Linked DNA regions of Homo sapiens. The protein of the gene in region 1 purifies or fractionates together with the protein of each later gene. This does not show direct contact. Each region holds a gene or a part of one and is shown in the gene's direction. Other genes may lie near its edges. The genes, in order: SDHAF3, ACP6, NUDT9 and ALDH1L1.

What was found.
Region 2: the proteins of SDHAF3 (region 1) and ACP6 purify together in Homo sapiens (affinity purification with mass spectrometry; one large-scale study listed by BioGRID and IntAct). This does not show direct contact.
Region 3: the proteins of SDHAF3 (region 1) and NUDT9 purify together in Homo sapiens (co-immunoprecipitation; one large-scale study listed by IntAct). This does not show direct contact.
Region 4: the proteins of SDHAF3 (region 1) and ALDH1L1 purify together in Homo sapiens (co-immunoprecipitation; one large-scale study listed by IntAct). This does not show direct contact.

The regions. Positions count from the first base shown.
Region 1 is NC_000007.14:97,174,133-97,181,531, forward strand, and holds part of SDHAF3 (succinate dehydrogenase assembly factor 3, mitochondrial precursor), read left to right. Parts: intron 1-3,330; exon of another isoform or gene 3,331-3,366; intron 3,367-6,127; exon of another isoform or gene 6,128-6,217; intron 6,218-6,879; coding exon 6,880-7,083; 3' UTR 7,084-7,399. UniProt on the Homo sapiens protein: Plays an essential role in the assembly of succinate dehydrogenase (SDH), an enzyme complex (also referred to as respiratory complex II) that is a component of both the tricarboxylic acid (TCA) cycle and the mitochondrial electron transport chain, and which couples the oxidation of succinate to fumarate with the reduction of ubiquinone (coenzyme Q) to ubiquinol.
Region 2 is NC_000001.11:147,646,507-147,650,024, reverse strand, and holds part of ACP6 (lysophosphatidic acid phosphatase type 6), read left to right. Parts: intron 1-1,613; coding exon 1,614-1,779; coding exon of another isoform or gene 1,780-1,848; exon of another isoform or gene 1,849-2,458; coding exon 2,459-2,602; 3' UTR 2,603-3,518. UniProt on the Homo sapiens protein: Hydrolyzes lysophosphatidic acid (LPA) containing a medium length fatty acid chain to the corresponding monoacylglycerol.
Region 3 is NC_000004.12:87,425,506-87,433,621, forward strand, and holds part of NUDT9 (ADP-ribose pyrophosphatase, mitochondrial isoform a precursor), read left to right. Parts: intron 1-8,116.
Region 4 is NC_000003.12:126,158,783-126,166,898, reverse strand, and holds part of ALDH1L1 (cytosolic 10-formyltetrahydrofolate dehydrogenase), read left to right. Parts: intron 1-5,896; coding exon of another isoform or gene 5,897-5,919; coding exon 5,920-6,046; intron 6,047-6,461; exon of another isoform or gene 6,462-6,614; intron 6,615-6,723; exon of another isoform or gene 6,724-6,816; intron 6,817-8,116. UniProt on the Homo sapiens protein: Cytosolic 10-formyltetrahydrofolate dehydrogenase that catalyzes the NADP(+)-dependent conversion of 10-formyltetrahydrofolate to tetrahydrofolate and carbon dioxide.

The DNA.
Region 1 (7,399 bases):
GGTCTCGAACTCCTGACCTCAAGGGATCCACTCAGCTCAGCTTCCCAAAATGCTGGGATTACAGGCATGAGCCACTGTGAGCATTTTTGTTCAAATAAGAAAGTATTATAATTAGTCAATACACCTGTTAAATCTAAAATTCTTTTGTTAAGCTCTTTGAGTTAATTTTAGAGTTACAGAAGAGAGTTGCAAAGATAGTACAGATTCCCTATACCTTTCTGCAGCTACTTCCCCTGTGATAGCCTACATAACTACAGTACTGTTATAGAAACTAAGAAGCTAACATTGATGCAATATTATATTGTTAATTAAACTACAGAGTATATTCAGTTTCACCAGCTTTTAGAGGAATTGTTTCTTTCTGTTCCAGGGCCTGATGCAAGATCCTGCCTCACATTTAGTCATCAGAGCTCCTTAGCTTCCTCTAATCTGTAATAGTTCCTTCCTTCCTTTTTCCTTGTCATTGATGGCCTTAAAACTTTTGAAGGGTACTGATCAGTTATTTAATAGAGTGTCCCTTAATTGAACTTTATCTGATGTTTTCTTATGATTAGATTGAGGTTGTGCATTATTGGGAAGAATACCACCGAGGTGATACATCCTCTCAGTGCCTAATTATCGGGAGGTACATGAGGGCAGTGTGACTTACTACTGGTCATGTTTACCTTGATCATTTCATTGAGGTGGTATCTTTCAGCTTTCTTCACTGTAAAGTTGCTATTTTTCCTTTATTACTTCTGAGACTGGCGTTGTTATGTAGTTTTTCATAGTCTGAATCATGCTGATTGCATTCCCATGGTGATGTTTAACACTTAGGTCTCTTGTGTTTCCTGTAAATTGATAATTAGATGTAGAGGCTTACTAGGTGTATTTTTTTGTTTGTTTTTGGTTTTCTTGTTGTTGTTGTTTTGGTAATATGTACTAATATCAGAAGACATGTAATATCTGGTTGTTTCTCTATGTTATTCCTTGAAATGGTTTATTTAGTTTGATTCTAAATGCTGGTAAGAAGAAATCTAATATAGTTCATTTCTATTCTTTAAAAACATCTGTATAATAGATAAATGAGTTCTAAAATTGAAGTAATTTAAGATAATTTATAATTTGATTGTTTTCTTAATGTTATTAAACTGACACTTTTTTAGATTTTAATTTTAGGTTTGAGGGTACATGTGAAGGTTTGTTGCATAGGTAAACTTGTGTCATGGGGGTTTGTTGTACAGATTAGTTCATCACCTAGTCATTAAGCCCAATATCCAATAGTTATCTTTTCTGTTCCTTCTTCCACCCTTATGTAGGTGTCTGTTGTTCCCCTCTTTGTGTTCGTGAGTTCTCATCATTTAGCTCCCACTTACAAGTGAGAATGTGTGATGTTTGGTTTACTAAAAACTAAGCAGTCCTCTTGCCTTGGCCTCCCAAAGCTCTGGGATTACAGGTGTGAGCCAGTGTGCTCGACCATACCAGTAATTTAATAGTATCAATTTGATTCAGACTATAAGCAAGTTTAATATACAGGTAGAGAATTAGAGAGTACAGTGAAGGCATAGCTGGCCTTATAATATTTAATTGTTCTATCACTGACAAACTGGTACTACAGCTTCTCTGCCTTTTCAAAAACTCTAGTGGGAAACAGTATAGCATGAACGTTAGTTTTTTTCTACTAGGAGACTTTAAGACTGTGTTTCTGTAGTTCACTGCTGTATTAATTTCCTGTGTCTGCTGTAATAAATTACCACAGCCTGACTTAAAACAATGGTAGTGTATTCTGGAGAGGCCTAATTAAAGAGTGAGAGGCTCTAGGGAAGAAATCCACATCTTTCAGCTTCTGGTGGATCCAGGATTCCCTTGAATTATGGCCATATCGCTCCAAACTTATTTTTTCTTCATATCACATTCTCCTCTGTATGCCTAATTTATCTCATCCCCTCTAAGAATACTTGTGACCGTATTTTCAGGACCATCAGGATAATCTCATCTCAGAATCCTCAATCACACTTGCAAAACCTATAATATACATATAAGGTAACACAGTTTCAGAGATTAGGACTTGACATATTTTGGGGACACCATTCAGCCCACTGCACCTGCTCTCACCATACTCAAAAGTGTCTCTCTTCGACAGCTTTCTGCTACTTGAAGCAGCTGCTTAACTTACCCTGAGGAAGCACTGCACATTCTCTTTGGTTCAAGAGAGCAATCATAGGGAATCTTCTAACTTTCGGGATAGCATTATTCTTAGAAGCCAGCATAACAGTTTGAAACCAAAGGATGCTGTTAGTTAATGTGTAGTGTAGTATTTTTCTGTTCTGAGTCTCTTCCCTCCAGGTAGATATGCTTGGCGGGGTGACTTAGTCATAAATTCACATTTTACTGCTGCTTCTTCCTATATCTGGAAACCTCCAAATTGTGGTCCTGAAGTTATTTTTATTTTGGCCATTTTTCTCTCTTGCCAGGAAAGGAATGCTGTTGCAAGTACATGGAGTCAAAGACTAGTCGGTAATGGGTGGTGTACGGGCGAAAGGTTGGGTTTTTTTGTTTCCTTTTCGTGAGTCTTTCTACCCAAGATGTTCATTCATTGATCATTTCTCACACATGAAATGTATTTCTACTTTCCATAAGAAACATTATTCCCATAATTATTATAAATTATACCCTAAGTGAAATATTCTCTGAAATTATGCACAAAGTTATGAAAATTTTCAAAAATGGGAAAGTTATGTATTCACCACTCAGATTTAACAAATATTAATATTTTGAAATATTTAGTTCACTTTTTTAAAGTAAATAAATATTAAAAGGTACAGCTAAAATTCCATTCCCCTTTCTTACTCCTCAGAGGTAATCAGGATCCTGATGTTGGTTGTTTCCATGCTTGTTTTTATGTTTTGTACATTTGCATATATTTGTAAATGATATATATATTTTTAAACTTTTAAAAAAGATTTTTGCTTTATTTTTCAACAATTTAACTATCATATGCTTAGGTATAGTATTTTGTATTCTGCTTGGAACTTGCTAAGCTTCTTGAATTTATTTTTCCTTAAAATATTCATTAAAATTCATAAAACTTTATAAAAATAAGATATCCGGCCAGGCACAGTAGCTCAGGCCTGTAATCCCAGCACTTTGGGAGGCTGAGGCGGGTGGATCATGAGGTCAGGAGATTGAGACCATCCTAGCTAACGCAGTGAAACCCATCTCTACTAAAAATACAAAAAATTTACCTGGGCGTGATGGTGGGCATCTGTAGTCCCATCTGCTGGGGAGGCTGAGGCAGGAGAATTGTGTGAACCCGGGAGGCACAGCTTGTAGTGAGCCGAGATCGCGCCACTGCACTCCAGCTTGGGCAACAGAGCGAGACTCCGTCTCAAAAAAAAAATAAGATACCCATTAAAATTTATTTTTCTGCTAAGGCAGTAACCTCTTTTCTTGGATTCCACTTAAACTTACGGTAGATCTTTTGGCATTGTTTCACAGATCACTGATCTTTTACTCATTTTTTAAATAGTTTTGTTCTGTTTAAAACTGGATAATTTCTATTGCTGTATTTTCAAGTTCATGAATCTTCATCTCCAGTCTACTATTAAGTGACATTTAAAAAATTCCAGATAGTGCATTTTTGAGTTCTAGAATTTATTTGGTTCTTATAATTCCTCATTCTCTGCTGAGATTTATCTGCCCCATTTATGATGACCGTATTTTCTTTTACATACTTAACATTTATAGTACCTGCTTTAAAATCTATCTCTGCTTATTCTAATGTCTGAATAATCTCAGGCACTGGTCTCCATTGATTGCCTCTTCTCTTAACTGTGTTTGTAATAATTTTTAATTTTTTTCCTGGACACTGTAAATGATACATTGTAGAGACATTATTCTAGATTTTTCCTCACCCAAACGGAAACTCGGTGGCCATTAAACAGTAACACCCTCTCCTACCTCCTCCCAGCCCTTAGTATTATCTATTCTTTCTGTCTATGAATTTTCCTATTCTAGATATTTCATGTAAGTGGAATCATACAATATGTCTTTTTATGTTTGGCTTCTTAGCATAATCTTTTTAAGGTTTATCCATGTTGTAGTATGGATCAGAACTTCATTCCCTTTTAAGGGTGATAAATATTCCATTGTATGTGTATACCACATTTTGTTTATCTGCTTGCTGGTGGACATCTAGGTTATTTTCCAAATGTCGTCTATTGTGTATACAAGTATGTGTTTGAGTTCCTGTTCTCAGTTATTTTGGTAATATACCTATGAGTGCATTTGCTGGATCATATGGTAATTCTGTGTTTAACTTTCTGAGGAACTGCCAGTCTTTTCTGCAGTGGCTATACCATTTTATATTCTCATTATCAATGTATGAGGATTCTAGTTTATTCCAACTGTTATTTTTCTGGGGTTTAAAAAATTATTATAGTAGACATCTTAGGGTGAAGTGGCATCTCATTGTGGTTTTGATTTACATTTTTCTAATGGCAAATGATTTTGACCATCTTTTCATGTACTTGGCCATCTGTATATCTTTGGAGAAATGTCTATTCATGTGCTTTACCCATTTTTAAATTGGGCTATTTGTCTTTTAGTTGTGGTTCTTTATATATTCTGGATAATAAACCCTTTTCAGATACGATTTGCAAATTTTTTCTCATTTTGTAGTTTGTCTTTTTACTATTAGGTGTCCTTTGATGCACAGAAGTATTTAATTTTGATACTGTCCAGTTTATTTTTGTTGTTGTTGCTTGGGCTTTTGGTGTCATATCTAAGAACCTATTGCCAAATCAAAGGTCATAAAGATTTACCTATATATTTTCTTCTAGGATTCTCATGATTTTAGCTCTTATATTTAGGTCTTTGATTCACTTTGAGTTAATTTTTGTATATGGTAGAAGATGGGGTGTCTAACTTCACTCTTTTGCATGTGGAAATTCAGTTTTCCCAGCACCAGTTGTTGCCTAGATTATTCTTTCCTCCACTGAATGGATTTGACATCTTTATCAAAAATCAATTGGCTATATATGTAAGGATTTACTTCTGGACTCCTCATTCTATTGGTGTTATATATCTATTCTAATGCCAGTGCCACACTTTTGTTTAATGTGGCTTTCTAGTTAAGTTTTGAAATTGGGAGTTGTGAGTCCTCTGTTTTTGCTATTTAGAGCTCCTTAGTTGTCCATTTTTGTAAATGAATAATTTCTTAAAGCCTGCTTTTTAGATTTTATTTTTTGGAGTTTCATCCGTGTTGATACATAGACTTGTAGCTTATTTGTTGTGACATCTTTATTATCATCTGAGTAAATTTCAGTGTATTTGACTTTTCTATTGAAGTACAATTATTTCCATTTTTTTTTTTTTTTTTGCTTTAACAATCAACATTCTTCTGCATGATACTTGTTCACATGTTTTAAAGTTTCTTTAGGATGGTAGGGTGATTTTTGCCTTGCCAGGAAACCTTTGGCAGTGTTTCGAGACATTTTAGATTATCAAGACGGGGAGAGGGGTGTTACTGCCATCTGGTGGTCAGAGACAAGAGATGCTGCTAAACATCCTGCAATGCAGACTCTCACTGACCCCTCCCCACCCCTACCCCCCCTACACACACAAAATAGTGCCAAGGTTGAAAAACCCTGCCTGCCCTGAAGCATATAGAAGTGGAATTGATAAAACTTGAAATGTTTTCATCTTAATAAGTGGATTTCTGTAAATCATGGAAAAAATATTTTCTCCATAGGTTTGGAATGTTTGGAATTAAAGTTGCTCTGGCAATGCTGCCATTCCAGCAATTACAAGCAATTTATATATCTCAAGCCAGATCAGGTAGCAGCATTATCCAGAGTTAGCCAGTTCATTCACTTTAACTTCATGAACTAAAATACTTTGGCACTTTGTCTGCTTAAAAGATTAATTTTAGAGTGAGTCTGTTTCAAAACAGTGGCACTTGTGCAGATGGGGATAGTTGGAATATTAGGCTGAATGTACTTAATAAGAGCAAAATTAGAACATGAAAAAGTTTTTCTTGACACAGATGGTTGTTAAACATTGAAGACTTAAAGGTTTAAGAAGTTTTTCTCTAGTATATTTTAAATTAAAATTGTAATTGAAGACATAGGAATGAATTTAGACTCACTTGAAGATGTGTTACATGTCACCGTGGAATACTGTGCTGCCATAAATAGGATGAAAGCATGTCCTTTGCAGCAACATAGATGCCATGATCCTAGGCAAATTAACACAGGAACAGAAAAATAAAATTTTAAGTGGGAGCTAAACATTGAGCACACATGGATGTAAACTGGGAACAGCTGACAGCATGGACTACTGGAGGGTGGTATGGGTTGAAAAGCTACATGTTGGGTATTGTGCTTACTCCCTGGGTGACAGGACCTGTACCCAAACTTGAGCATCATGCAGTTATTCCCATCTAACAAACCTGCACATGTACCCCTTGTATCTAGGGGATATATGTGCAGGTTTAAAATAAAAGTTGGGGGAAAAAAGACCCATGGTTCCTGTTTGAGAATCCGTTGAAAGCTATGGCCCCAGAAATGATGTCCGTACTTGTGTAAATACAATTTTGCATATGGTTTGAGGTGGTTTATGCATGCTTCTGAAGCCCATCCAGGGACTCACCACTCTTTACTTATATCCAGGTTAAAAATTTTGCTAAAAGTTGGTTAAAACACTTAAAGTGCTAAAAATAGATATACATGAAATGATCAATGAATTGTATCTTCACAACTATATTTATATCTCCTTAACCAAATGCTTCTGCATTTACTGATGAGGAAAAATAGGTGACTCAGAATTAGAATTCAAGTCCTCTAATGTTAAATATTATTTAAACTTTACATCTATAACCTTCATTCTTTATCTTTTTAGGTGTATGCAACAGCGTTATTGCAACAGGCTAACGAAAACAGACAAAATTCAACTGGAAAAGCATGTTTTGGCACCTTCCTCCCAGAAGAAAAACTTAATGACTTTCGTGATGAACAAATTGGACAGTTGCAGGAGCTGATGCAAGAAGCCACAAAACCCAATAGGCAATTTAGTATTTCTGAGTCTATGAAACCAAAATTTTAGTCTATACAACAAAGCTTAATAAGACATGCAAAAATTTAGAACCCCTACTTTAACTGTCATTGGTTTTTGAAATATATTTAAGCTTTGAAAACACCTGTTATTAATGAAATACTCTTTTATTTTGGATATTATGATTGCAGTATATGGATCAAGATCACTAGTGACAATTGAAAAAAACTATTGGAATAATAGCACTTGTATGAAATTCAGTTTTGGAACTAAACAGCAAATTTCTAGAATTTTGCTGAAAATGTTTTAAAATGCTATTCTCATCCAGCCATATTAGTCTTCTGGCTTTTCTTTAGCTTCATCAAAT
Region 2 (3,518 bases), on another chromosome or scaffold:
GTTTAACAGGCCTCAAGTGTCAAAGAGGTTCACAATCTTTTAACCTTTCTTCCTGCTGCACCCCTCCTACCATGTTTTGAAAATTTTATTTTTGCTTTCTCTCTCTCTTTTTTTTATTAATTGAAGATATGTCAAACAGTAGCCAATTATGATGTCACACTGATTTGATATGATAATAGTCCAAAACAAAGATAAATTGCTTAATGGATTGTGTAGTTTGAACCACTTTCATTGAGTGTAAAGAAGGTATGATATCCATAAGGCATTTAAAAATATTGGAAGTGGCCAGGTGCAGTGGCTCACGCCTGTAATCCCAGCACTTTGGGAGGCCAAGGTGAGTGGATCACGAGGTCAGGAGATTGAAAACATCCTGGCCAACATGGTGAAACCCTGCTCTACTAAAAATACAAAAATTATCCGGGCATGGTGGCACGCACCTTTAGTCTCAGCTACTCGGGAGGTTGAGTCAGGAGAGTTGCTTGAACCCAGGAGGCGGAGGTTGCAGTTAGCCAAGATCACACCACTGTACTCCAGCCTGGTGACAGAGCCAGGCTCTGTCTCAAAAAAAAAAAATGTTGGAAGTAGCTCATGAGCCTCCATTGCCACTTTTGGAGCCTTGAATCCAAGGTTGGGACTACGGCTGTGGAATATTATGTGTCCTAGGCACTTGCTAAGTGCGTTCTGCAGGAAAACAGCTTCACCGTTGCCCAAGAACTCATCAGGTTCTCAGGCTCCAGCCTGATCTACTAAATCAGCATCTGCAGTTTAACAAGATCCCCAGGTGATTGATAGTCACCTGAATTTTGGAGAAGCACTGTTGTGGTATCACAGCTAGAAACTCATGATGGCGTAAGAGGAATAGGAGACAGTGAGTTGAAACAGGAACTTTGGGCCAAGATTTGTAATAGCAAATCTTGTGAATACCATTTCCTGTCCTTCACAGTACCTGCAATGACAGTACATTTTTTCTGGCTTTTGCCACCTTGCCACCTTCTGCCTTGGATCTTTAGAACACCACAGGATCCAATGCTAGTCTTCTAGGATGGGGGTCCATAAATAAAATCCTTGGTCTTTCCTAAGAGATGGATACTGGTGTCAGGCAGATGTAGATTAAAATGGCATTCTTATTACAGATTAAAGCCATTTGGAGAATGTGCTGAGGGCCAAATGGGCTTGTGAATATTATTTTGAAATAAACTTAATACCCCAAAACTTCAAGCTTCCCCAACAAGGAGCCCTACTAAACTCATCCCATGGCTGAGAGTAGGAAGGGCATTCATGTAGGCTGGCAGGACCCAAAGAGAGAAGAGAGGTAGGGTCTAAGCCACACACGCTCAGTTTCTTCTTTGAAACTCACCAGGGAGGAGTGAGTAGGTGGCAAGGAGGAGGCCAGGAGAATTTCTCTGGCGGGGACCCTCCTCATGAAGACACGGGGAGTGGGAACAAGGGTTCTTCCCACGATCTACTGCAAAGGACTTTTATACCAGGCTCAGCTGATTTCTAGATGTCACCTAGTTTCTGAGGCAAGTGTGTCTTACGTAAAGGAGGCAGGCCACATCCTGACCTTCAGAGTCCTGAGGCAGAGAATTGTGGAGAGCTGTTTCCTCTTGCAGAAAGCTGTATCTCTATGCGGCTCATGATGTGACCTTCATACCGCTCTTAATGACCCTGGGGATTTTTGACCACAAATGGCCACCGTTTGCTGTTGACCTGACCATGGAACTTTACCAGCACCTGGAATCTAAGGAGTGGTTTGTGCAGCTCTATTACCACGGGAAGGTAATACCCCTGAGGTGGGGTTGGGTGGTGGTGAGGCACCCTCCTGCAAAACCCACCTACCTGAGTTAGCACCAAGTCTCCCTCCTCAGGCCCAGTGGAGTCTCTCTTGGCACAGTCAGCTCTCTGAATCCTATAGGGCAACTCCTGGCTATGGCCCAGGGGTCAGGCAGAACTTGACAGATGGTGGCAGGATGGGGCTTGAGCCTTATCCCAGTTCTGTTACAGACTCCTAGGAACAGGGTCCCCCTCCTCTTCTCCTGAGCGTCCCTGTCAGGATGTCGCCTCCTGGCTGTGAGACCTGTTTTGGAGATTGTTGGTGGTATCTTTGGGAGGTGATGTGTGCTGCTGTTAGCACCCGTGGTGTTGGCTGCTTCATCAGGGCTGGGGTCCAGGGCAGAGGCCAGAGCACGCCCCAGGGATGAGCCTGTTGGTTCTCCCAGCTCGGGGATGTAACTCGACTCTTTCTTCCCAGTCAATTCAACACTTTTTGAGTGACTTTTACAAGCAGAGCATAGTGCTTTTATTCTGGAAGCTCACCGGGTAGTGGGGCCTTCCTGTCTGTAATATGTATGCACATGTATACCACATGGATCAGAGCCTCTCAGATCTCTGGGCTTAGCTGGAAATAGCAGAAGGACAGGTTCCTCGGCGGACCTGCTGAGTTATGTTTCTTCTGCAGGAGCAGGTGCCGAGAGGTTGCCCTGATGGGCTCTGCCCGCTGGACATGTTCTTGAATGCCATGTCAGTTTATACCTTAAGCCCAGAAAAATACCACGCACTCTGCTCTCAAACTCAGGTGATGGAAGTTGGAAATGAAGAGTAACTGATTTATAAAAGCAGGATGTGTTGATTTTAAAATAAAGTGCCTTTATACAATGCCTCCTGCTTTGTGTGTTTGGGAAGAGGAGAGAGCAAGGGGTAATGTACTTTAATATAATGTAAGGATATTTCCTTTCTGTGGGTTTACTAAGATTTCTTCCTGAACGGAAAAGGGGTATAATATTGAGACCAAAAGGATATTTCTCTATTTTGTGAGTTGGTTTCTAAGGTTAGAAGCATCTTTGTGTGACACGGGCTGGGGACATCATGACCCTGTAGAATTGTGTCGGTTTTGGACTTTAGTTCTTTTCTCCTATATTAATTTCACATGTATTGAGCTACCTACTAAGTAGTGATCATTATAAAGGTGAAAACACTCTGCCCTCAAGTTGTTGCAGTCCAGTGGGAGAGGCAGCCGAGTAAATCAGTGATACAGTGCTGTATGTTTTATGCTGTAATAGGTATTTGAGGGGCTATTTGGGTATAGAGAAGAAACTTCCTGCTCACATGGCAGGGGATGTGGGGAACAGTCAAGGAAGGCTTCTGAAAAAGTCCTGGCCTGATCTGAGTAGAGAAAGGTGGGTAGGAGTTAACCAGGAAAGCAAGGATGAAAGCGTGTTGCGTTTAGATAAAGGATAGGCTTCAAGGTCAGGGAACGTTGCTGGGTGGTGAGATGGAACCCTGATGTGGAGGCTCAGCAGGAAGAAGCAGGAAGGACACTGGGCCCCTGGTGGTTTTAGTTCCAGAAACAAATGTGGGCCCCAGGGCTCTGCAATGGTAAGGCTGGAACTACTCAACATAAGAGCTCCACCTTTAACTGTGCCCCCTAAGAGTACCTGATGATCCCCCTATCTCCTTGTCAATGTTGCTGTTCTTCTCCAGAATCTATTTCAACCCTTCTCTGATTTCAAACCACCAGT
Region 3 (8,116 bases), on another chromosome or scaffold:
TGCCCCAGCCTCCCTAGTAGCTAGGATTACAGGCGCCCATCACCATGCCTGGCTAAGTTTTATATTTTTAGTAGAGATGGGGTTTTACCATTTTGGCCAGGCTGGTTTCGAACTCCTGACCTCAGGCAATCTGTCTGCCTTGGCCTCTCAAAGTGCTGGTGAATACAGGTGTGAGCCCCCACGCCTGGCCAAGACCCTGTCTCTTTGAAAAAAAAAAAAAAAAAAAGAATTTTACCAGTCTTTGATAATTTGGAAAAACCCAGAAAGTGACAGTTTTGCACTTAGTTTTTGTGATTACTAGAAGGTTTCCAATGTTCATTTTCTTTTTTAATTGCTCTGTCACCTAGGCTGGAGTGCAGTGGTGTGATCATGACTCACTGCAGTCTCAACCTCCTGGGCTCAGTGATTGTCCCAGCTCAGCATCCTGAGTATCTGGTACTACCGGTGCGCACTACCAGGCCTGGCTAATTAAAAATTTATTTATTGTTTGTAGAGATGGGTCTCCCTATGTTGCCCAGGCTGGTCTCAAACTATTGGGCTCAAGTGATCCTCCTGCCTTGGCCTCCTAAAGTTCTGGGATTGTAGGTGTGAGACACTGCTCCCAGTCATCAAATGTACATTTTCTAGAAAAAAGGTAGTATATTACAAAGATGTAGTGAATGCTTTTACATACCACAACATACAAATCTTCCAGAAGGATCTACTGGTGATGTGTGTAGAATATTGTTTTATTCCTGTGAATGCATAAAACATATGAATGAACCAAAAATGAAATAGAGATAGTAAAACATAGTGTTAAGAGCCTGGAATTCTAAGACAGCTTGCCTAGGTTTGGATCCTGATTTCTACTCTCAATTGTGTGACCTTGGTAAACTTATTTACCTCTCTGGGTCTTAATGTTCTTATTTCCTTTTTTTTTTTTGAGACAGAGTCTCGCACTGTCGCCCCAGCTGGTGTGCAGTGGTGTAATCTTGGCTCTCTGCAACTTGTGCCTCCAGGGTTCAAGCGATTCTCCTGCCTCAGCCTAGTGAGTAGCTAGGATTACAGGCGTCTGCCACCATGCCTAGCTAATTTTTTTGTATTTTTAGTAGAGACGGGGTTTCACTGTGTTGGCCAGGCTGTTCTTGAACTCCTGACCTTGCGATCGCCTGCCTCGGCCTCCCAAAGTGCTGGGATTACAGGCGTGAGCCACTGCGCCTGGCCTTAATGTTCTTATTTATAAAAAAAAAAATTGAAAAAGGATAATATGGCCTGGTGTGGAGGCTCACACCTGTAATCTCAGCACTTTGGAAGTCCGAGGCAGGAAGATTGCTTGAGCCTAGGAGTTCAGGACCAGCCTGGGCAACATAGAGTGAGACCCCATCTTGACAAAAAATAAACAAAATTGGGAGTCGCTCAGCCTACCTGATTTACCAAACCACTCCCTTGCCAAAAAAAAAAACAAAAAACTAAACCAAAAAAAAAAAAAGCCAGGTGTGGTAGCATATGCCTATAGTCCCACCTACTCAGGAGGCTGAGGTAGGAGGATTGCTTGAGCCTGGGAGGTCGAGATTGCAGTGAGCCATGATTGTACCAATGCATGCCAGCCTGGGTAACAGAGTGAGGCCTTGTCTCAAAAAAAAAAAAAAAAGTTAAAAAAAAAAAAAGTACCTGAACTCAGTTGTGAGGATCAAGTGAGTTAATTTACAGTGCTTAGAACACTGTCTTGCACATAGCAATCACTATATACATTTAGGTGTGATTATGACAATGATTGTTGCAGATTTTATTTCAAAGCACCACGTCAGTATTGCATTTTTAAAAGTTTGCCAGTCTTAAGAATTGGTTTTTGCCATGTAAATGGACTTTATCAGCTACTTAGTTCCCATTTGCTAGGCCAAATATATTTCTTGCACTTGTTCAATAATACAATACAAAGGTCAAGGCTGTATATGTGTGTATTACAAGTATTCTTTTTTCTGGTACCTTACAGTGTATCACATTTAAATAGCATATATAGATAGCAGTGTTAGCACTTCTTGATGTGATAAGATGTATAGCCTGAATTTTTGCACAATTAAATTTGTTTTAGAAAAGTAAATAATCCAGTGTGTAAATCTGTCTTGTCAAGTAGGTAGATTTGTGGAATTCCATAAACATTTTATTGCTAAATCAGGGAACAAAGAGCCTTAAGTTATTTAAACATTTTTGGTACGTGGGTGGGATGGAGTGGAACAGCATTAGTGTTTCCTGTTTGGTATTTAATTAATGGCCTTAACTTTTTTCTTGCCCTACTCCCAAACCATGAAACATAACTCATTTTGTGATAGGGTTCAATTAGAGATTAGGGTTCCATATGTTAAAATTTTGCTTTTTAAAACACCTGAAGTCTGTTTGCTAATTTTGATAAATGTGTTTCATATATGTATTCATTTTTTATTGAGTATGGGTTTAAGGTGAGTGAGGGAGACTTTATTTTCAGAATATTCATTGTGTAGGTTTCCTAAACTGTGGCAGCTGAGGCAAGAAAGTTGTCATAATCATAATATGAAAGTGAATGAACCTACTGCTTTTAGTAAAGTTAGTCACAAATCAAATACTCGCTCACGTTACACTAGTTTTCAGCCCGTCTGGGGATATTAACTTCTTTATTAGTTAGGTTTTCCCTCATTTTTGGGTGTTTTACCACACTTTGCAGATGTAAAGTGAGTGTAAAATGAAATAGTAATTGTTTCAGAGTCTTTAAATGTGATGAAAGAGAACAGCTTGAACAGTATATAAAACTGTAGACACACAAGAATAGGAAAGAATGAAACCAGTTAAAAATCCAACTGACAGTTTGTCAGTTTCTTACAGAACTCAACACTTATAATTCAGCAATCACACTCTTTGGTATTTACCCAAATGAATTGAAAATTTATGTCCACACAAAAACCTGCACACAGATGTTTATAGCAGTTTTATTCATAACTGCCAAAACTTGGAAGCAACCAAGATGTTCTTCAGTAGGTAAATGGATAAATAAACTGCGGTACATCCAGACAATGGGATATTATATTATTTAGTGCTAAGAAGAAATGAGCTATCAAGCCATGAAAAGACATGGAGGAATCTTAAATGCATATTATTAACTGAAGGAAAGGCTGTATGATTCCAACTATATGGCATTCTTGAAGGCACAACTATGGAGACAGTAAAAAGATCAGGAGTTGGATGAATTGGGGTAGCACAGAGGACTTTAAAAAATAGTCATTTTTTTAGAGCAGTTTTTAGGTTCACACCAAAATTGAGCTAAAGATAAGAGATATCCTGTATACCTCCTACCTCCACCCATGCATAGCCTCCCGCATTGTCAACATCCCCACAGAGCCACGGAGCCATACGTTTGTTAAAATTGAACCTACATTGACGCTTCATCACCCAAAGTCCTGTAGTTTATATCAGGGTTTACTCTTGGTCTTGTACTTTATGGTTTGGACAAATGTATAATGACACGCATCAACTCTTATGGAATTGTACACGTAAAATTCACTGCCTTTAGGGCAGTGAAACTTGCGTATGATACCTAATGGTAGGTACATGTTTACACTATATACACCGAAGAGGGACCAGGAGGAAGTCTAGGAAGCAGTTCTTGTAAGTCAGGTTAAGAATTTTAATTAAAAAGGTTTCTTATTTTTTTAATGAGTCAGGATCTCACTATGTTGCCCAGGCTGGAGTGCAGTGGCGTGATCATGGTTCACTGCAGCCTTGACCTCCTGGACTCAGGAGATCCTCCCACCTCAGCTTCCTGAGTAGCGGCAACTACAGGCACATACCACCATGCCTGACTAACTTTTAAAATTTTTTGTAGAGATAAGGGTCTCACTGTCTCACCTAGGGTGGTCTTGAACTCCTAGCTTCAAGCAGTCCCCCTGCCTTGGCCTCCCAAAGTGTTGGGATTACAGACGTGAGCCACTGTGCCCCACTGAGAAGTTTCTTTTTATATATATATAATTATGTAATTTGCCCTAATTGCATAAATTTGATCAGGCATACCTCACTTTATTTGGTAAATTTGGGTAGTCTTTTTTCCTTCTCTTTTTTTCCTTGTTTCCTTTTCCTTCAGTTTTCTTATCCTTTTTAAATTTGTTTTTCTTTCTTGTTCTTTTTTTCTTATCCTTTCTTGCAACTCCCTTTCCTTTTCTCCTTTTCTCTCTCCCCGTTTCCCCCCCATCTTTGCCACTGTCTCTTCTTTCCCCCTCATCTCCTTTTTCTTCTCTCCTGTACTCCCCTTTCCCCCTCCCTTTCCTTTTCGTTCTCCTTCCTTTCTTTTCCCTCTTTCTGTTTGCCTCTACTTCTCTTCACATCAGCACCTTATTTCCTAGCCCATATTAAGAACCTGATTATATGGCTCCTTCTATATATGCTTATATAATAAATAGTATAGACAGTTGTGGTAAGCAGAATAATGGCCCCCCAAGTATGTCCACATCCTGATACCTGGAACCTGTGTATATGTTGCCTTACATAGCAAAAGAGAGTGCAGAGGTGGTTAAGGTTAAGGACTTTGAGATGGGGAGAGCATCCTGGAAGGTGCGCCTGATTTAATTGAGAGTCCTTAAAAAATGGCCTGGCCGTGATCAAAGATATGATTACTAATACATGGTCAGAGAGATTTCTATGTTGCTGGCTTTGAAGATGATGGAAGGGGGCCATGAGCCACAGAATGCAGGTGGAATGAGGATTCCCTCTAGAAGCTGGGAAAGTATGGCAAATGGATTTTTCTCTTGAGCCTCCAGAGAGGAATGCAGCCCTGCTGATAAATTGTCTTTAGCTGAGTGAGACCTGTGTTGGACTTCTAACCTACAAAACTGTAAGACAATGAATTTTTATTGTCTTAAGTCATTGAATTTGTGGTGATTTGTTGTGGCTTCAGTAGAAAACTAATACATTATATACATGCACTGAAATGTGCTTATTTATTTTTTATGTCATTGCTTTATAAAAATAGTACCATATTATAGGACTTTACTGAATCTTTTTTCAGCAATGCCTTACAGAAATACAAATTGTTTGATGTCATTTTTTTTATTGCAAGTAAATTTCTCCACATCCTTGCCAATACTTATTTTCTGTATTGTTTTTTTGATAGTGGTCATTCTAATGGGTCTGAGGTAGTATCTCATTGTGGTTTTGACTTGCTTTTGTCTAATAATTAGTGGTATTGAGCATCTTTCCATGTGCTTATTGGCCATTTGTATATCTTCTTTGGAGAAATGTCTATTGGAGTCCTTTGCCCGTTTTTAAATTGGGTTGTTTTGTTGTTGTTGTGTGTAGGAGTTCTTTCTATATTCTGGATATAACCAACCCCTTATCAGACATGTGATTACCAAGTATCTTTTCCTGTTCCATGGGTTGCTTTTTCTCTCTTGATTGTGTCTTTTGATACCCAGAAGTTTTTCATCTTGATGTAATATATAGTCCAGCTTACCAATTTTTTCTCTTGTTGCTTGTACTTTTGGTGTCATATCCAGAAAATCATCACCAAATCCAGTGTCGTGAAATTTTGTCAGCATGTGTTCCTCTAAGATTTTGATCATTTTAGGTCTTATGTTTAGGTCTTTGACCCACTTTTAATTAATGTTTTTATATGGTGAAAGGTAAGGGTCAAACTTCATACTACTTTTGCATGTGAATATCCAATTTTCCTAGCACCATTTGTTGAAAAGACTGCCCTTTCCCTGTTGAAATGGTCTTGGTACCTTTGTCAAAAATTATTGTGAGGATTTATTTCTGGGTTCTACTTCTATTCCACTAGTCTATATGTCTTTCTGTATGCCAGTATCTCAGTGTTGTGATTACTATAGCTGTGTAGTAAGTGTGAGACCTTGAACTTGTTTCTCCCTTTCAAGATTGTCTTGGCTATTTGGGGTTCCTTGAGATTCCATATGAATTTTAAGGTAGAGTTTTCTCTTTCTGGAAAAACATCATTGGGATTTTGACAGAGATTGCATTGAATCTGCGGATAACTTTGAGTAGTATTGACATCTTAATATTTTTTTCCAGTCAATGAACATAGGATGTCTTTTTATTTATTGGTGTCTTTAATTTCTTTTAGCAATAGTTTGTAGTGTTCAGTGTATAAGAGTTTTGCTTCCTTAAGTTTATTCCTAAGTATTTTATTCTTTTCTATGCTATTGTAAGTAGAATTTTCTTAATGTTCCTTTTGGATTGTTAATTATTAGTGCTTTGTTTGTTTGTTTGTTTTTGAGATGGAGCCTTGATCTCGGCTTACTGCAACCTCCGCCTCTGGGGTTTAAGTGATTCTCCTGCCTCAGCTTCTCGAGTAGCTGGGATTACAGGCACACATCACCATGCCCGGCTAATTTTTGTATTTTTAGTAGAGACAGGGTTTCGCCATGTTGGCCGGGCTGGTCTTGAACTGCTGACCTCAGGTGATCCACTAGCCTCTGCCTTCTGAAGTGCTGAGATTACAGGCATGAGCCAGTGCACCCAGCATGTTAGTGTTTTTTAATGTAACCATTTTTGTGTGTTGATTCATACCTTGCAACTTTGCTGAATTCATTTATTAGTTCTAACAGTTTTTTCATGAATTATCTTGGGTTTTCTACATAAAACATCATGCGATGTGTAAATACAGGTTGAGTATCCCTTATCTAAAATGCTTGAGACCAGAGCGGTTTGGATTTCAGGTTTTGGAATATTCACATACACATAATGAGATGTCTTGGAGATGGGACTCAAGTCTAAACACAAAATTCATTTATGTTTTATATATACTTTAAACAGGTAGCCTGGAGATACTTTTATACAGTATTTTAAACTTGTGCCTGAAACAGTTTTGGTTGTGACCCATCACATGAAGCCAGGTGTGGAATTTTCTATTTGTGGCATCATATCAGCACTCAAAAAATTTCTGATTTTGGATTTTTGGATTAGGGATGCTCAACCAGTTTTACTTCTTCCTTTCCAATGTGGATACCTTTTCCTTTTTTTTTCTTTCCTAATTGTTCTGGCTAGAACTTCTATTTCTTTCCTAATTGCTCTGGCTGAACTTCCAGTATTATATTGATTAAAGTGAACATCCTTGTCTTGTTCCTGATCTTAGAGGAAAAACTTCCAGTCTTTCACCTTCACACCATTAGCTGTGGGCTTTTCATATATGGCCTTTATTATGTTGAGGTAATTTCCTTCTATTCCTAGTTTGTTGAATATTCTTAAATCGTGAAAGGGTGCTGAATTTTGTTAGATAATTTTTCTGCATCAATCAAGAAGATTGTGTTTTTTTTTTTTATTTTGTTAATGTGATACATTATGTTGATTGATTTTCATTATATAGAACCATCATTGGATTCCAAGAATGTCTCCCTTGGTCATGGCATATAATCCTTTTCATGTGCTGTTGAATTCTGTTTGTTATTATTTTGTTGAGGATTTTCACATCAGTATTAATCAAAGATAATGGTTTGTAGTTTTTTTATAGTGTCTTTGTCAAGCTTTAGTATCAGGATAATGCTGGCCTCAGAGTGAGTTTGGAAGTGTTTACTTCCTCTTCACGTTTTTGGAAGAGTTGAGGGAATATTGGTGTTGATTCTTCTTTAAATGTTTGGTAGAATTTATCAGTAAAGCCATCTGGTCCTGGGTTTTTCTTTGTTGGGAGTAAATAGATACTTTAAAAAAATTCACCTTTTAAAATTATTTATACAACCCCATCCAAACTTTACTACCTATCCTGCAATGTTTATTTTTTCCTTTATGGTCATCAGCCCATCCAAGATCATTGATTGCTTCTAATTGTCATGTCTTTTTAGTCTTAATCTATCTGGAAGAGTTCCTGCACCTTTCTCTATCTTTCATGACCTTACCAATTTAGAGAGTACACACCTTTATTCTGTAAGATGTCTCTTAACCTGGGTCTGTCTTGTGTTTCCTAATGTTCAGATTCATGTCATATATTTTTGGGAGAAATACCTCAAATGACTGTTGCATGCTTCTCACTGTATGAGATCAGGAGGCACATGCTGTTGACTTAGTCCACAACCTTGGTCAAGTGGATATTTGCCCCGTCAATCATTTGTCTTAAGAAGGGCAAATTGACTGGTATTGTGAGAGCAGGGGAAAGGAGCTATCATAA
Region 4 (8,116 bases), on another chromosome or scaffold:
CAGAGGGGCATTTTAACTTGAATTCCCCAGTGGCAAAAGTAGTGTATAAACTAATGCTAGTGTATACACTACTGAAGTGCCAACTTATGTAACATTTTTAAATTTAATTTTTAAAATGAAAGATTTTTTTTTCACTGTGAAGGGCAGTAACATTAAATTTTCCCAGTGGGTATGAGTGAATGATTTACTTAGTACATTGATATACTTAACTATTAGCATTTTTGGGAAGCTGGATTTGATACAAATTTATTTTGAAAAACATGGTTTATGAAATTTTATAATAAAATTATTAATAAAGACATTGTTAAGTTTCTATAAACATGCACTAAAAGTGGCAAGACAGAGTGGAGAAATGTAATTTTGGCTGAGAAAAAAACTTTTTTCAGGAAAACAAGATTTATGAAGAGAAAAACATAAAGGACTTTTGAATATACTTTCTTGGATATCCATTTTAATTAAGCTGAGCACTCTTTTTTATTAAAGGTAAGGGTGGATTTTGGAATTATATAAATGTTATGCCAAGTTAAATGAAAGGATTGAGTTATATGCAGGAATTCCCTGTGATAATGAGAGGGATTTTTAGAGAAAGATCCCAGAAGCTGTTCTATCTGCCACAAATCAGACATGGAGAAGGGGACATGAACGTGAGCAATGCCTTTAACCCTGGCCACTTCCCGGAGAGGGAGAATGGCAGGGGAGGTTTGACTGGTTGGAGCAGTTTTTGAACCGGTGGAGAAGGACGAGGGGTGCGGTTTAAAGTAGAAGAAACCCTGAATATGGGGAACCTATTGCCAGAATCTCTGAGATACAGCTAAAGCAGTGTTAAGAGGAAAGTTTCTAGCACTAAATGGCTTCATCGAGAAGATAGAAAGATCTCAAATTAACAAACTAACTTCACCTAAAGGAACTAGAAAAAAAGAACAAACCAACCCCAAAGCCAGTCAAAGAAAAGAAGTAAAAATTAGAGAACTGAATGAAATTGAGATGCAAAAATCCATACAAAAGATCAATGAAATCAAGAGTTGGTTTTTCAAAAAAATAAAAATAAACAAGATCATTAGACCACTAGCTACATTAACACACAAAAAGAGAAGATCCAAATAAGTATAGTCAAAAATGGCAAAGATGACATTACAACCAATCCACAGAAATTAGAAAAGATTCTTAGAGAATACTGTGAACAAATATATGCACACAAATGAGAAAATCTAAAGGAAATGGATAAATTCCTAGAAACACACAATCTCCCAAGACTAAAGTAGGAAAAGATTGAAATGCTGAATAGACCAATATTGAGCTCTGAAACTGAATCAGTAATGAAAACAACTACCAACCAAGGAAAGCTCAGGGCCAGATGGATTCACACTGAATTATACCAGACATACAAAGAAGTAATGACACCAATCCTATTGAAAGTATTACAAAAAAATTGAAAAGGAGGGGATCCTACCTGACTCATTCTGTGAAGCCAGCATCTGCCTAATACCAAAATCTGGCAGAGACATAACAAAAAAAGAAAACTTCAGGCCAATATCCCCGATGAACATAGACACAAAAATCCTCAACAAAATACTAGCAAACCAAATCCAGCAGCACATCAAAAAGTTAATATACTGTGCTTAAGTGGGCTTTATTCTTGGGATGCAAGGCTGGTTTAACATACACAAATCAATAAATGTGATTCACCACATAAACAGAATTAAAAGCAAAAACTATATGATCATCTCAATAGATACAGAAAAAGCTTTGGATAAAATCCAACATCCCTTCCATAAGCGAAAAACAAATAACCCCATTAAAAAATGGGCAAAGGACATGAACAGACACTTCCCAAAAAAACACGTACAAGCAGCCAACAAATGAGGAACATTTCAATATGTTCCTCATCACTAATTAAAATGAGGAAAATTTTAATATGTTCCTCATCACTAATCATTAGAGAAATGCAAATCAAAATCACAATGAGATACCATCTTACACTGGTCAGAATGGCTATTACTAAAAAGTCAATAACAGTGCTGGTGAGGCTATAGAGAAAACAACGCTTATACACTGTTGGTGGGAATGTAAATTAGTTCAGCCACTGTGGAAGTTTCTTAAAGAAAAGTTTAGAGATTTCTTAAAGAACTTAGAACTACCATCCAACCCAGCAATCCCATTACTGGGTATATACCCAAAGGAAAATAGATCATTATATGAAAAAGACACATGCGCTTGTATGTTCGTCGTTGGACTATTCACAACAGCAGTGACAGGGAATCAACTTAGGTGCCCAACAATGGTGGATTGGATAAATAAAATGTACATATACACCATGGAATATTACACAACCATAAAAAGGAGTGAAAGCATGTCTTTTGCAGCAACATGGGTGGACTAGAGGCCGTAATCCTAAGTGAATTAAGGCATAAACAGAAAACCAGATACTGCACGTTCTCACTTGTAAGTGGGAGCTCAACATTGAGCACACATGCACATAAAATGGGAACAACAGACACTGCAGACTGCTAGAGGGAGTACGGGAATGGGTTGAAAAAACTCCGTTGGGTACTGTGCTTACTACCTGGGTGCAATATGTTCATATATCAAACCTGCACCTGCACCCCCTGTTTCTAAAATAAAAGTTGAAAGAAAGAGAAAGCTACACCAAAACCTGAATAGGACATTTGTTACAATGAAGTATTTGACACATCAATATTTCTTTTCTTCTTTTCTGCCTCACCCTGCCCTGCCCCGCCCTACCTTGCCTTGCCTTGCCTTTTTTTTTTGAGACATAGTCTCACTCTGTTGCCCAGGCTGGAGTGCAGTGGTAGGGTCTCAGCTCACTCTAGCCTAGACCTCCCAGACTCAAGTGATTCTCATGCCTCAGCCTCCCAAGTAGCTGGGACTACAGGCACGTACTACCATGTCCAGCTATTGTTTGTTTTTGCAGAGATGGGGTCTCACTATGTTGCCCAGGATGGTCTTGAACTCCTGGCCTCTAGCAATCTGCCCACCTCAGCCTCCCAACGTGCTGGGGTTGCAGTCATGAGCGACTGGGACTGGTTCATGTCAATATTTCTTACAAGCATAGATTTAAAAACAAATAAAATACCAGCTCTTCAAATTCAGAGATATATAGAAAGGTTATACATCATGGTCAAGTGGTATTCATTCCAAGAATGCAAAGGTGGCTTAACATTTAAAAATCAATCATTATGATCCACCACAATAAAATAAAAATCTCATGACCTATAGGAAGAACATTTGGTAAAAGTCAACTCCTTGTCATGATTGGCAGCCAGAAATATATTAATAAGACAACTTTCATAATATGCTAGTCTATCTACCAAAATTCCCCAAAGCTAACCAATGGTCAAATATTGAATGGTTTCTTCCCAAGGTCACAGGAATGAGACAGGAACTACTATCACCATCTGTATTCAATATTGTAGTGGATATATTGGCAAGTGCTATAAGAAAGTAAATGAAATGAAAGACTTCAGGATTAGAAAGAAAGAATTAAAACCAACATCATAACATGATTTTATACTTAGAAAACCACAAAGAATCTACACAGTATGAAAATTTATATGTGAAGCAATTAAGGTGCTAGTTAATACAACGTCAGTGTACAAAATCAATTGTATTTCTATATGCTAGCAACAAAAAAGACAAACCAATTTTTAAAATGGGTCAAAACTCGAATAAACATTGCTCCAAAGAAGGTATACAAATGGCCAAAAAGCACATGAAAAGATGTTTAACATCATGATTCAATAGGAAAATACAAATCAAAACCACAATGAAATACCACTTCACAACTACTAGGTAGATCAGCTACAATAAAGCTTTAGGTTATGTATCTTCACCACTACAACAAAAAACATTTTTAAGCTATACTAAATGCAAAGATAGACAAACTGACTAAAGTTTCAAAGATAGATGTGTACATGTATGATCCTTTTCAATGAAGAAACGTCTTTTCAGTAACTAGTGCTGGGTTAATTTTATATGCAGATGGAAAAAAAATTCTGGACTTCTACCTTATATTGTATGAAAAAATCAGTTCCAGAGGGATTGCACATCTAATGTAAAAGGCAAAACAATAAAGATCTTGAATGACAAGGAGAACATCTTCATGAAGTTGGAGTAGGCAAAGATTTTTTAAATAGAATACAAGAACCACTAAACATAAAGGAAATGTTTGATAAAATGTACTATATTAAGTTTAAGAACATCTGTTCATCAAAAGACATTATACGAGGATGAAAAAGGCAAGCCACAGAATTAGGGAAGATATTTTCCATACACATATCTGACAAAGAGCTCAAAGTCTAGATGATTAAAAAACAAAACAGAGCAACAATACAAAAAAACTCCTTTTCAATAAGAATAAAACCACCCAATGGAAAAAAACAGACAAAAGATTTGAAGAGATGATTCCCACAAAAGGATATCCAAATAGCCAAGAAACAGGAAAAGGCATTCGACTTCATTGGTCATCAGGGAATTGCAAATTAAACCCCAATGAGACAGCTGTATTTCATGTTAGGAAAAGCGCTAAAATGAAGACACAAGCCAAAGTGGAGAGCACATGGAAGTGGAAACTAATACAACCACTCTGGAAAACTGGCAGCGTCTGTTAAAGCTGGAAATTTTCACACCTATGACCCAGGAATTCCACCCTAAGTACACACCTGACAGAGATGTGTACATGTGTACCATGAAGACCATGTGCAAGTATCTTTGTAGCATCCTATTTGTAATACCTTTAAACTGGTAACTACCCAAATTCCATTAACAATAGAATGAATAAATGAACTAGAGGTCATCCACATATCAAAATACTCTGCAGCAATGAGAATAAACTCAGTACAACTACATGCAACCACAAAGATAATGTTGAGGGAGAAAATCTACAAAACACTGCATGGTTCCATTTATGTAAAATGAATACATATAAAGGGGATATATATATATATCAAGCGAAACCATTCGATGCTGTTAGAAGTCCCATCATTCTTGGTGAATGTAGTGACTAGAAGAGGCTCAAAGAGTTCCTGGAGTTTTTCTCTTTCTGGTGGTGTTGACAGTGGTGTGTTTGGTTTGTGAAATTCATTGAGCTACACATCTATGATTTGTGCACTTTCTGTATGTATGAAGTACACATTACTTTAATAAAATTTTCCAAAATAAAATCTTATTTTCGTAAAAGGACAATTTAAAGAACTGTATTAAGTGAATAATAGTTCAGGTTTTACAGATATGCGTGAGGTGAATGAATGACCAATCTTTGGAGAATGTGCATGATTAGCTAGGCTTCATTCTACACATCTTCCTTAGTGGAATCCCATTCCACTTTCCACCACCTTCATCCTCAGGCGCCCCCACGCAGGCCCCTTTTCTGTTGCAGCTCAGCTGGACAGCCCCTTCGGCGGGGACTCCCCTTGCTCCTTTTGTGACTCCTGGCTCAGAGGAATAAGCCTAATTTGTAGGCTGAAAGCCATTTGAGAGATGTGGCATCTTTCTCATGAACAAGTGTGACTTGACCAAGGCCATAGAACTGGTTAGTTACAGAAATATGCTCAAATACATATCAAACATCTTGACACCCAACATTCCATGCCAGTTTGGAAGGTTTCAAAAAGAAATCCCCTAATTCTACAATCCATTTCCAGCTCACCTGCTGTCGCATTGAATATTCTGACATTAGGGATCCATTGGGTCATGTGTACATGTTTCATCTGGTCTCTCTTACAGTGGCAGTCTCCCCTCAGTGGCCTGCCACCCACAGAGCCACAGAGGGGACTGGGGTAGAGCAGGCCAGGTGCCATGAACTGCCCTGTCTTGAACCAGGGCTGGCTTCTCTGAGACCAGCGATCTCTGTCTAATTGCTGCCTTATTCCTTCTCCAGGTCCTTCCAACCCTCCTGCTACCATGAAGATTGCAGTGATTGGACAGAGCCTGTTTGGCCAGGAAGTTTACTGCCACCTGAGGAAGGAGGGCCACGAAGTGGTGGGTGTGTTCACTGTTCCAGACAAGGATGGAAAGGCCGACCCCCTGGGTGAGTGAGCCAATGGAGCAGGGAAGCTGATGGAGGGCGGCCCGCCCATCCAGGTAGAAGGGAAGCAGTAGGTGGGAGTCTGGGAGCAGAAGTCTGCAGGGCCTGTGCTCTAGCTGGGAGGCAGCCATAAGTGGTCTACCTTGAATCCTGCTCCAGTGCCAACAGGCTGCTGGGCTTTTCTGGAATAAATTGGAGATCCCCTCCCCACCTGATCATGGGGTGGCATTAGGGTCCTGGAGAAGGGCTATAGAGAAGCCCAGCCTGGTCCCAGGTCCCACACAGAGCTTCTCTGACCCAGCACCCATGATTGGGAAGGTCTCCATGTTCTGAACTGGGGGTCCATATTCTGAAAGGTGGGCATGCGCGGCATCACCATTGCTGGGGCTGCCGTCAAAACACATAGTGCTCTACTTACCCATCAGGGGAGAGACCATGATCACAAAGGTGGTTTTCCCAGGGCGAGTCTTCTCCATTGTACTCTGGATGTGCTGATCCCTGCAATTTCCCCAAAGGTGGGAAACTCGACTTCATAATTTGTGGTAATGGGGAACTGCATTTGCACTCTCCCCTGGCATTTTGTAAAAGAAAAGAAAAAAACACAGAGAGTACTAAGCGCACCCTGAGAGTTTCGGATTCAGAATGAGGTGGAAAAGTCAGAATTAGGTGAAATTGTTAACCTGGGACAAGTTCCTGGGAGATACTGGCATCTCTTGTACTAGGAAAAGCACGTTTTGAGAATCATGGGTCTGGGTCACTGCCTTTGAGCTGGGAACCTCAGCAGACAGGATGCAGGGGCCTCAGCTTGGATGAACAGACCCTCTAGGAACACTGACTGGTCCTTCTCAGGCCTGATGGAGACAGACTGTGGGGCAGGGCTTAAGGATAGAGGGCCAGGATTAGGAAAGGGGGCTTGTAGGCCTGGCCAGGCACAGAGGTGTAGTTTGTTAAGGAAAGCCAGTCTCCCTCAGTGGGGAAGCTGCAGCCTGGCCCTAGAATCAACTCCAACACTCAACACCCAATGCCAGCCAGGCTTCAGTCTTGGACCTGACCACAAGTGACCCATGACATACCCTGACCCCACCACAGCCTGGGTCCTACACCCAGCCACTAAGTGACCACTGACCCCAGCTGCTGACCCTGGACCCAGACCAGGCCTGGCTGGGACTCCTACTTGGCCTTGATCTCAGATGTCCTGAAGCAGTATTTCATTGGTCACTGTGGGACAGCTTTTGCAAGTGCAGTCCAATCTGCTGACATCACATCCCACCCTCTCTCAAAACTACCAGACACCAGGACAGAGTGACAGAGGAGGAGACCGGAGAGGAGAGCCAGTCCAGTCAGGGCCCAAACATCACACCAGAGGCTCTAACAGAGAACTGAATACAAAGAAGTGTTCCTTGGGTATTGAAGAGTGGAAGGCAGAGAGCCCAAAGTTATTGGGGACAGCGACTGCAGGAAGCAGCTGCCACTGTAAGGCTAAGATAAAGGAGGACGCTTTAACTATAAAAACTTGGGAGCTTGGGCCTGTAATCCAGACCTGTGAGGAGGGTGTGCTGGTGACGGGGCAGGAGGAGGGGCCCTGCAGGCTGTATCTGGTCCTCTGGGGTGTGTGTGTGTGTGTGTGTGTGTGCACGCATGTGTGCATATTGAGGCTAGTTCTGCAGATGATGGAAAAACTGATTTAGCCATTGCTCTGAGAAGGAACGACTGTGACTGGGATGAAGAAGCTGGGCTGGGGGAGGCTCACAGGACAGGAACCCACTGGACAGAAAGGAGTGGGGATGCCCTGTTGCCCTTCTTCCCCTTCTTCCTCCATCAGGGAACAGCTGACAAAGCAGAAATGCCATCTGCAGGGGGGCAGTCCCCATCACAGAGTGAGCAGTAGAGGGGGCCGGAAGACAGTAACTCAGTGACGGGGATGGCAAGGCCTCAGGAGAGGAATGAGGGCAGAGGTCAGCCATCTGGGTTCTGGAAGAGGGAGGCACTCAGAGGTCCTGGGGTTCAGCAAAAGTCAGGATGCAGGCAGGGCAGTCCCCAGAGCCTCATGCTTGGCTGGTGCATCCGTCTGTG